Linked DNA regions of Homo sapiens. The protein of the gene in region 1 interacts with the protein of each later gene in a pairwise test. Each region holds a gene or a part of one and is shown on either strand. Other genes may lie near its edges. The genes, in order: OSTF1 and HES7.

The links.
Region 2: the proteins of OSTF1 (region 1) and HES7 interact in a two-hybrid assay, tested with the Homo sapiens proteins (one large-scale study listed by BioGRID).

The regions. Positions count from the first base shown.
Region 1 is NC_000009.12:75,091,440-75,095,246, reverse strand, and holds part of OSTF1 (osteoclast-stimulating factor 1), read right to left. Parts: intron 1-3,807.
Region 2 is NC_000017.11:8,121,213-8,125,491, forward strand, and holds the start of HES7 (transcription factor HES-7), read right to left. Parts: upstream 2,895-4,279; 5' UTR 2,873-2,894; coding exon 2,831-2,872; exon of another isoform or gene 2,053-2,830; coding exon of another isoform or gene 1,915-2,052; coding exon 1,819-1,914; intron 1,674-1,818; coding exon of another isoform or gene 1,219-1,673; coding exon 1,131-1,218; intron 826-1,130; coding exon 359-825; 3' UTR 1-358. UniProt on the Homo sapiens protein: Transcriptional repressor. Represses transcription from both N box- and E box-containing promoters. May with HES1, cooperatively regulate somite formation in the presomitic mesoderm (PSM).

The DNA.
Region 1 (3,807 bases):
TCCCACTGCCAGGACTTTATCCTATGGATTTACGTGTGTAAGCAACAACAATACTATTGGGAGACTATTTGTTATAACAAAAGATTGAAAACAATCCAGAAGTACGTTAATTAGGGTCTGGTTAAATGAGCTCAGCAGAATACTATGTAGTTATTTAAAAGAACCAGGAAGTTCTCCTGGTTCTAATATTTGTGTTGTATTGTTTGTTTGTTTATTTGAGACAGGGTCTCGCTCTGTCACCCAGGCTGGAGTGCAGTGGCACGATCTTGGCCTCCCAGGCTCAAGTGATCCTCCCACCTCAGTCTCCTAAGTAGCAGGGACTACAAACACGCACCACCAAGCCCAGCTAATTTTTTCATATTTGTTGTACAGAAAAGGTTTCACCATGTTGCCCAGGCTGGTCTCAAACTCCTAGGCTCAAGCAATCTGCCTGCCTGGGCCTCCCAAAGTGCCAGGATTACAGGTGTGAACCACTGTGCCTGGCCTGTACATTTTTCTGAAACTCCTTTAATTTGATAAGAGAATCTTGACACCTCACTCATATCAGCCCACTGAAAGGTGTCCCTGTATCATTTTTTTTTTAATGTAGTCTTTCCCTGTCCATTAAGCAAGTGAGGACAACTTTGGCAATGGGTTCTGTTATGCCCTGAGGTATAAGGTGTGTATTAGAAAATCTCACTGCACTAGTCACGTAAGTCAAATTGTGGGAATGCTGAAACGCCAAGGGAGGGGACCCCAGTATTTCCAGAAGGGAGGAATGCTTATCAGAAGCACATAACCTCCAGCCTTTGCTACTTTGTAGTAAAGCTACAAGAAAAGCCCAATCACAGTCTCTGAGTCCACCCCCACCTTCTTTCAGGGAAAAAAAAAAAAACCCACCTTTTTTTTGTATCAAAGCGTTTTACATTATCTGTCATTCATAACGATTTAGTGGCTGTGCAGTTACAAAGAAATAAAAGACTGTTCCACTCTCAAAAAGTGCATAGTTTAATGCTCTAATACGGATCCATTGAAAGAGGGCAGTTACACAAACCAAATACCAATAATACAACTGCATAAGCTAATAAAATGACTGTCCAACAAAAGCAGGTCCAACCCAATAACATCTCTGGCAGGTTTCTCTGCTCATATGCATGGACTCAATTAAAGCTTCTGTTCCACTTCCAGGTCACACCAACCACTCACTAGCTTTGAGATCTTAGATAGTTTACTTGACCTCATTAAGTACTACTTCATCCATAAAACAGGGATATGAGGACCCACCCACCTGATAGGAAAGTCAGAATAATTAAAGGAGACAGAGCATACACAGTGCTGGGTGCAGTGCCTGACATATGGGGCCAAATATATGTTAACCATTCCCATCATCATCATCATTGTGAAATTTTCAAGATGTTTCTCAGGCTTTATTCTGCCAACAGGTATAAAAAGTATCAAGTTTATAAAAGAAGACTATTCACGTGCATATTTCACCTCACTTTTGATTAATTCCTTTGTTGGGGTAAAAAATACATAAAAATTAAGTTCATTTTAGATAAAAACCTTTTTTTCTCAAAAATGTTATTTAAGCAGCATGCGTGTGATGTCTTTTAAGTTTTATGATGTTTTTACTCTGAATAACAAAAAAACCTGAAACACTGACATTTGCTTCTTCAAAGTTCCATGAATTTATTTTCACAAGGCACATGAAATATTTATGCTTTACTTTCACCACCAAAATCAATAAGCCATTTGGAAAAAATGGCCAAGGTCAGACACCAGGTTTCCAACTACAATAGATAGTTACCAAACCTGCTTAGAATGAGATGATTCTACAGCCCAAATCTCATTCAGTATCCTTTGGCCCATTCTTACTCTCAGAATAAAATATTTTTAAAAAGATTTTACAAGAACAAAAGTTCTGTTTTCTACACTTCTACACTCTAACAAGCCAGACAGATTCACGCTAATTGAACTGCAAGGCTTCTGAGAGTGGCTGAAAACAACATAAATGCTATATGTGTAAAACTAAGAGGTTGTACTCATTCAGAAAAAGGAAAGGAGGGTCTCAGCCAGGTTTGGTGGTGAGCATCTATAATTCCAGATACTCTGGAAGCTCAGGAAGGAAGAAGACTGCTTGAGCACAGGAGAGCAAGACCAGCCTGGTCAACATAGCAAAATCCCATCTCCAAAAAAAAAAAAAGAAAGAAAGAAAGAGAGAGAGAGAAAGAAAGAAAGAAAGAGGGTATCATAAAGAATGAGCTGAAGACCACGAAATTGCAACACATCTTAGTAGAGTACCATGGTGGCACAGATAACAGTTAAGGGAGAAAGTTTCAATGACAGACCTTGTGTGGCCAAAAGTGATTCTACAGAAACAAAATCAGTAAGCAAGGAAAGGTCAAACTGCGACAGAATTGATTTTTCAAGCAGAATGCAGGCAATACCGTATAGCCTTTTGGAAACATATGCCAACCAACAGCAAGACTTTTCAAACGGAAGCTGAGACGCTGTTCTGAGGGTAATTGTTTTTATTTTCTTTTTTGAAATGAAATGGATGTGAAGAAGAAAGAAACCTGAAAGAATATTCAACCAAATGTAAATAGTGATTATCAGTAGATGACAGGGATGATTCCTATATTTTAGTTATATATTTATTGTTTACCTTTTTCTAAATTTTCTAAAAATAAAAAAATTATATTTTTACTTACAAGCTTTTTTAAAAAAAACAAAATGAATGAGATCAGCCATCCACTTGTAAATATGGGATACTCTAGGTAATATCTGTAGATACATACGTCTTCCCCATTAGACTCAGGACCCTCGTGAATGACACCATAGATTATTGTTCCTGGGAACCCCAGTGTCTAGCACAGGGCCTAATATATGAGCTACATTTATTAAGAAACATTTGTTTAGCAAATGAATTCTGGATATGGCCAAAAACCCAAACAAGGTAACCCTGATCTATCCTCCAGATGGTACAAAAATGGCCAGGGTCTCCCACTAGCATCTGCCCGGGACTTCCCTGGGCAGCCTCCTTCCACAAATCGGCCCCCTGTTGGGGATGTGCTGATCAGCCAGAAAGATGCTATTAGCCTGCATTATAGCTTAATGTCCCTTGTTTTTAATATCTTCCAGCAAGTCCTTTGTCCTTACTCACCTAGCTCCTTTCCTTTTAGTATTGTCTACTGAATTGAGCCATGCTGTTTTGCCCAAATCTTGCTCTGAAAGAAGCTGTAAGAAACATGGCTAGGATGTTCTGTCTTGTATTTCTGCTAGAGATATCCAGGCCACTCCAATACTTTAAGAGAACCCACAGGAAAATCTGTCTCAGATCTCAATGCCATTAAAATAACTACTTTTCAGAGTAAGTGACACATTTTAATTTTATGAGCACTATGAATCTTGAGATTTTTCTCTCTGCTTGCAGCTGAGAGCCAAATCTACAGTGACCTTACTACACATGCAGGTCTGTCTGTAAGCTAGCTTTTCCTCTTGTTTCATCTTACTATTCTTCCCTTCCTCTAGATGACCATGCTTTATCTTTACTTTTTCCTCTCTCTCAGATCATGTGTATTTTTAGAAGTCCTTTTGGAATGAGGCAAGGTTTAAACAAACCAAAAAATTAAATACAACCCCAAAGCCCCCAATCCCATGCTGTCTTTGGAGATTTTTATCCATGCAGCTTGCCTGCAGGACAAGAAAGTAAAGCTCCACACCACTCTCCTTGCTGTCAACCAGGGGCTGACCTTTATGTGCATTTGTGACAAGAAAGTCTGTAGACCAGAGGCCCCTCCCTTTCGACTTCCTGACCACCAGCTCTAA
Region 2 (4,279 bases), on another chromosome or scaffold:
AGTGGGCGTGGACGTCGAGATAAAGGCAGGCCCCTGGCTCGGGGACACACGGGGATTTAATAACCACTTTATTCCATGCACTAGGGACTCGGGAAGGGACTGGGACTGGGCTGAGGGGCAGAGAGAGTACAATCCTAGACGCAAGGGAGAAGTTGGGGCAGGGAAAAGGGACAGGAACCAGGGAAATATATATTTATATAGATACTCTAATATAGACCACATCTCACCCGCGCGCTGAGCCCGCGCGCCCCACTGCCCTCCCCAACACCTGCTCGCCCGGACGCCCGGGTCCCTCTGCTGCCCTCGGGCTGGAGTCTCTACCCCACCCCTAGACCCCGCCCCCACCACCCCCCAAGGCTCAGGGCCAAGGTCTCCAGAAAGCGGGCGGCGGGGGCAGCGGGGCCTTGGGCGCCCCGTCTTGTCTGTGAGGCGGCGGTGGCGGCGGCAGCAGTCCGGTGAGGGGCGCCGGCGCGCCAGAATCCCCGGCGCGCGGGGAGCAGAGGGATGGGGACCATGCGCAGCGCGGGCTAGGGTGGCCCTGGTGCACTGGGGGGCGCTGGTGCAGCGCAGGGCCAAGGGCCGGTGCGGCGGGGTCCAGGGATGGGCGCGGCGCTGGAGGCCTCGGATCTACCGGCTTGGGCCGGGGCGGTTTGGGGCGCAGATAGCCGTGCAGCGCGGAGAAGAGCTGGGCGCGGGCGGCCGGGCTGGCGTCGTGCGCGAAGGCCGCCAAGCGAAGCAGGCACTCGCGGAAACCGGACAAGTAGCAGCTGGCGAGCGCCTCGGCGTCCTGGACTGGGGACCGGGGAACCCCTGGAGCCGCGGCGGCTGGTGCGGCCGGCGGGAGCACAGGTGGGCAGGGCAGGGGCCCGGCAGGGGTGAGGGAAGGGGCGGGGCGCAGAGATACCAAGGCCGGACAGGCGCACAGAGACAGGAAGCCAGATGGACGGAAAGAGGGAGAAAATGAGGGAGACACAGAGACAGACACGCGCGGGTGTTATTAACCTCGCCTCGGAGCAGAACCGGCCACTCCCCAAGCCCACCATCCACCGCAGGGCCCGCCCACTCTGCCCCGGCCGGAGCCTCCTGGCGTCCCCCCTCCCTCCCTCCGCTGCCCCACCCCCGCGCTGTACCCGGGGGCTCCACCCGGCTTCGCTCCCTCAAGTAGCCCACGGCGAACTCCAATATCTCCGCTTTCTCCAGCTTCGGGTTCCGGAGGTTCTACAGACGGGAGGGGAGGGCGCAGAGACAGAAAGGGGTGGGGAGAAAGGGGGAAAGTGGCAGGGGGAAGAAGGGAGGGACGGATGCGGGAGCTGGTGGTGCCCCCGATCGCATTTGCGCACTGCCCACAGAACGCGCGACCAAATGCGGAGTGGAGATGACCAAGGAAAGTCCTGGCCCACCCTGAGACGAAACTGTCCAATCCTAGGGGTTGGAACCAATGCCCAACGCGTGAGGAGGAGATTTGAAACCGCAACCCAGGGAATGAAATTAACCACCCGACATAACAGAGGCTGGCTCATCAGAGGCTGGCTGTGGGGGAGGGGGAACCGGACACTTAGAGACCCAAAGGGTGAAACTGACCGACCCCGGGAGCGAAATTTACAGAACCAGGCGTGAAACTTACAGACCCGAGGGGTGGCGAAGAAGATCGCGTTCTGAGAGCGAGTGGGGGTCTGGGATGGAATTCCAAAGGCGGGACTCGGGTGAGGATGCCTTGGGGCCAGGGTTGCCAACCAAGCTTGTGTCCCCACCCCAGTGGGAAGCCCTGGGACGCGGAAACGGGAAGCTTGGGGACCTAGGGCTAGCGGAGGGACTGACCTGGTCCCGGGTCCGCTCCAGCAGCAGCAGCCTCAGCTCTTCCAGGCTGCGGTTGATGCGGTCCCGGCGCCGCTTCTCCACAAGCGGCTTGAGCATCTGCGACCAGCGAGAAAAGGAGAGCGGGCCGACCAGACCGAGACTCAGTGCGGCCGCCCCGGCGTCGGATCCCGCCGCTGGGAGAGCCCGGCTTCCACCCCGGCCACAAGACCCCAGATTGCCTAGGGCCGGCCCCATTCGATCCCTCTCCGCTCCCCCTCCCAATGCCCCTAGATCAGTTTCTGTAGCTCGCCTCCCCGGATCTTCGCATTCTCCTCTCTCAGTCTCGTCCTCCCTCCTCCCCTCTCTGTGTCTCTCCTCCTCTTTTCTCTCTACGTCTCCGTCTGGTGCAGTTTCTCTTTGTCTCAGTGGAGAACTTTGGGGACTCTCTGCGCGCACGCACGTGCGCCGCACGGTGCCGGGCTCAGACCTGGCGGCCCTGAGTATAGAAAGGGAGATACCTAGCGCGACCGCGCCGCCTCTTTTCCCTCAAAACCCTCCAGGCCTTCACCTTCTCCACGGTTCTCCTAAAATCTTCCACCAGTCTGGGGCCTCTGGAACCAACGCCCCGGGACCTTCTGTACAAGACCGCCTTGGGCCAGCCCCGCCCGGCTCACAGCCAGAGTGGAGCAAGTGCCTATCCTCTTCTCTTTTCGTTCCCACCCTCCTCCCTTGGCTCTGCCCTCTAATTGCTTATTTTACTCCAACACCGGCCCCCTCCCCAGGCCACAAGGTGCCGACACCCATTACCGAGGCCCCTAGTCCTATGTTCCCGCCGCCCACTCAGGTCTGGCTCTGACCCCTGTCCCCTTCTTCATATTTTGCAGCTTCCTCTCCAGCTTCTGGCTCCTGGAGTTCTGGAGCACCGCTCCCCTTCCACCCCTGCGTCCCCAGCCTCTCTCCAGACCGACGGCGTCAGGGGCCCAGTCCCCTAGCCAAACCAGGGACCTCTGCTCCCTCCCCTCCCGCCTCTCACCTTGGGGCCGTCCCTATTCTCAGCTCGATCCCGGGTGACCATTGCTCCTCCGGACCCTGTGTGGACCGGTTCCCTGCTCGCCTGGAGCCTTATATTCCGCGGCCCAAGGGTAGGAGGGATAGGACCCGACCCCGCCCCCTTCGACATCCAGATTCTGCCCCTCTAGGACCCGGCACGAGGCTCCCGGAAAGAGGAGGAGTGAAGGGGGGAGGGGAAGGAGAGAAACTGGCCTGGGAGTGCGGGAAGTGAGGGGTGAATGGGGGCACTGGCTGGTTTACAGACCGTAAGGCTGTATAAGGAGGCGGGACCCAGCTGAAAGGAGGAGGCTATTGGGGCAGAGCTCGCTTGGGGATGAAATTCAGAGTTCCTCCAGAATTGCAGCTTTCTGGGAGGCTTACTGTACCCTCACTAACCCTGAAATAGAAGTTAGCACCTCTCAGCCCCCAGGCTGAATTTTATACATCATCTCCGAAGTTCGCTTCCTAGTCGAGACAGGGAGCAACCCGAGTGCGCTGGGTGAATCTGTCCGACTCAACCGAAGCTCTGCCGGGAGGTTGGAGAGGCGCTCTCTTCTATCTAAGCCAGTTACATTCAAGTCCGCGAACATCTGCGCGCCCACTCTGCGGACAGGGCACTTGTCTAGGCTCGGGCGAGTCATAGTGAGATACGCAGGAGAGACCCAGCTTATCCCTGCAGGATCTAATGGAAAAGACCATGTGACACCAAGTAGCTATTACAGAAGCCCAGTGAAGTAGGTGCTCCGGGAAAAGGTCTCCTTAAGGATGGCTGGACTGAGGAGGATCTTCAAGGCAGAGGGAGCAAGTCTTTGAAACATAGGTATGAGTGGAGAGGTCTTTCCACTTACAGTACAAGTATTTGATTCAAAACTAGTCATAGGAGATTCAGGAGTGTGGCTGATAGGACACCTCACGCAAGTGTGCCCGCATTGCTTGCTTCTGGAGGCCCCTGGTGACTGTAGGGTAGCAGGGAGCAGGCAGTTTACTAAGGGGAAAGCAAGGGGTACAAAAAAGGGATCAACACCCACCTCAAACCAAGAGCATGACCCTCCGCAGAACGATGCCTGACCACTCGAGGGCTTCAGGACAAAGTGTCTGAGAAGATAAATCAGAAACTGAAGGGAACAGCCAGGTTGCCAGGGATAAAGACACGGAAAGACAGGGTTGCAGACCGAGACGGAAGACAGCTGTGAAATCAGAGACCAATGGGGTTTCCTTCAAGCCCTCCCAACGGCCCTCCGCACCTTGGTTTTGTCACGAAGCCTTTCTTGCCATCATAGCCCGAGCCGGGAGAGGCACAGACCTTGAGGAGGGGGCTCCCATTTGGGATCAGGGCCCCCAGCACATCCCACCTCTCCGTCCTTCAGCCAAATGGGAACGCAAATGTGTGTCCCCATCAGCCCCCGCCGCCCCCCTCCTTGGGAACCTGGGC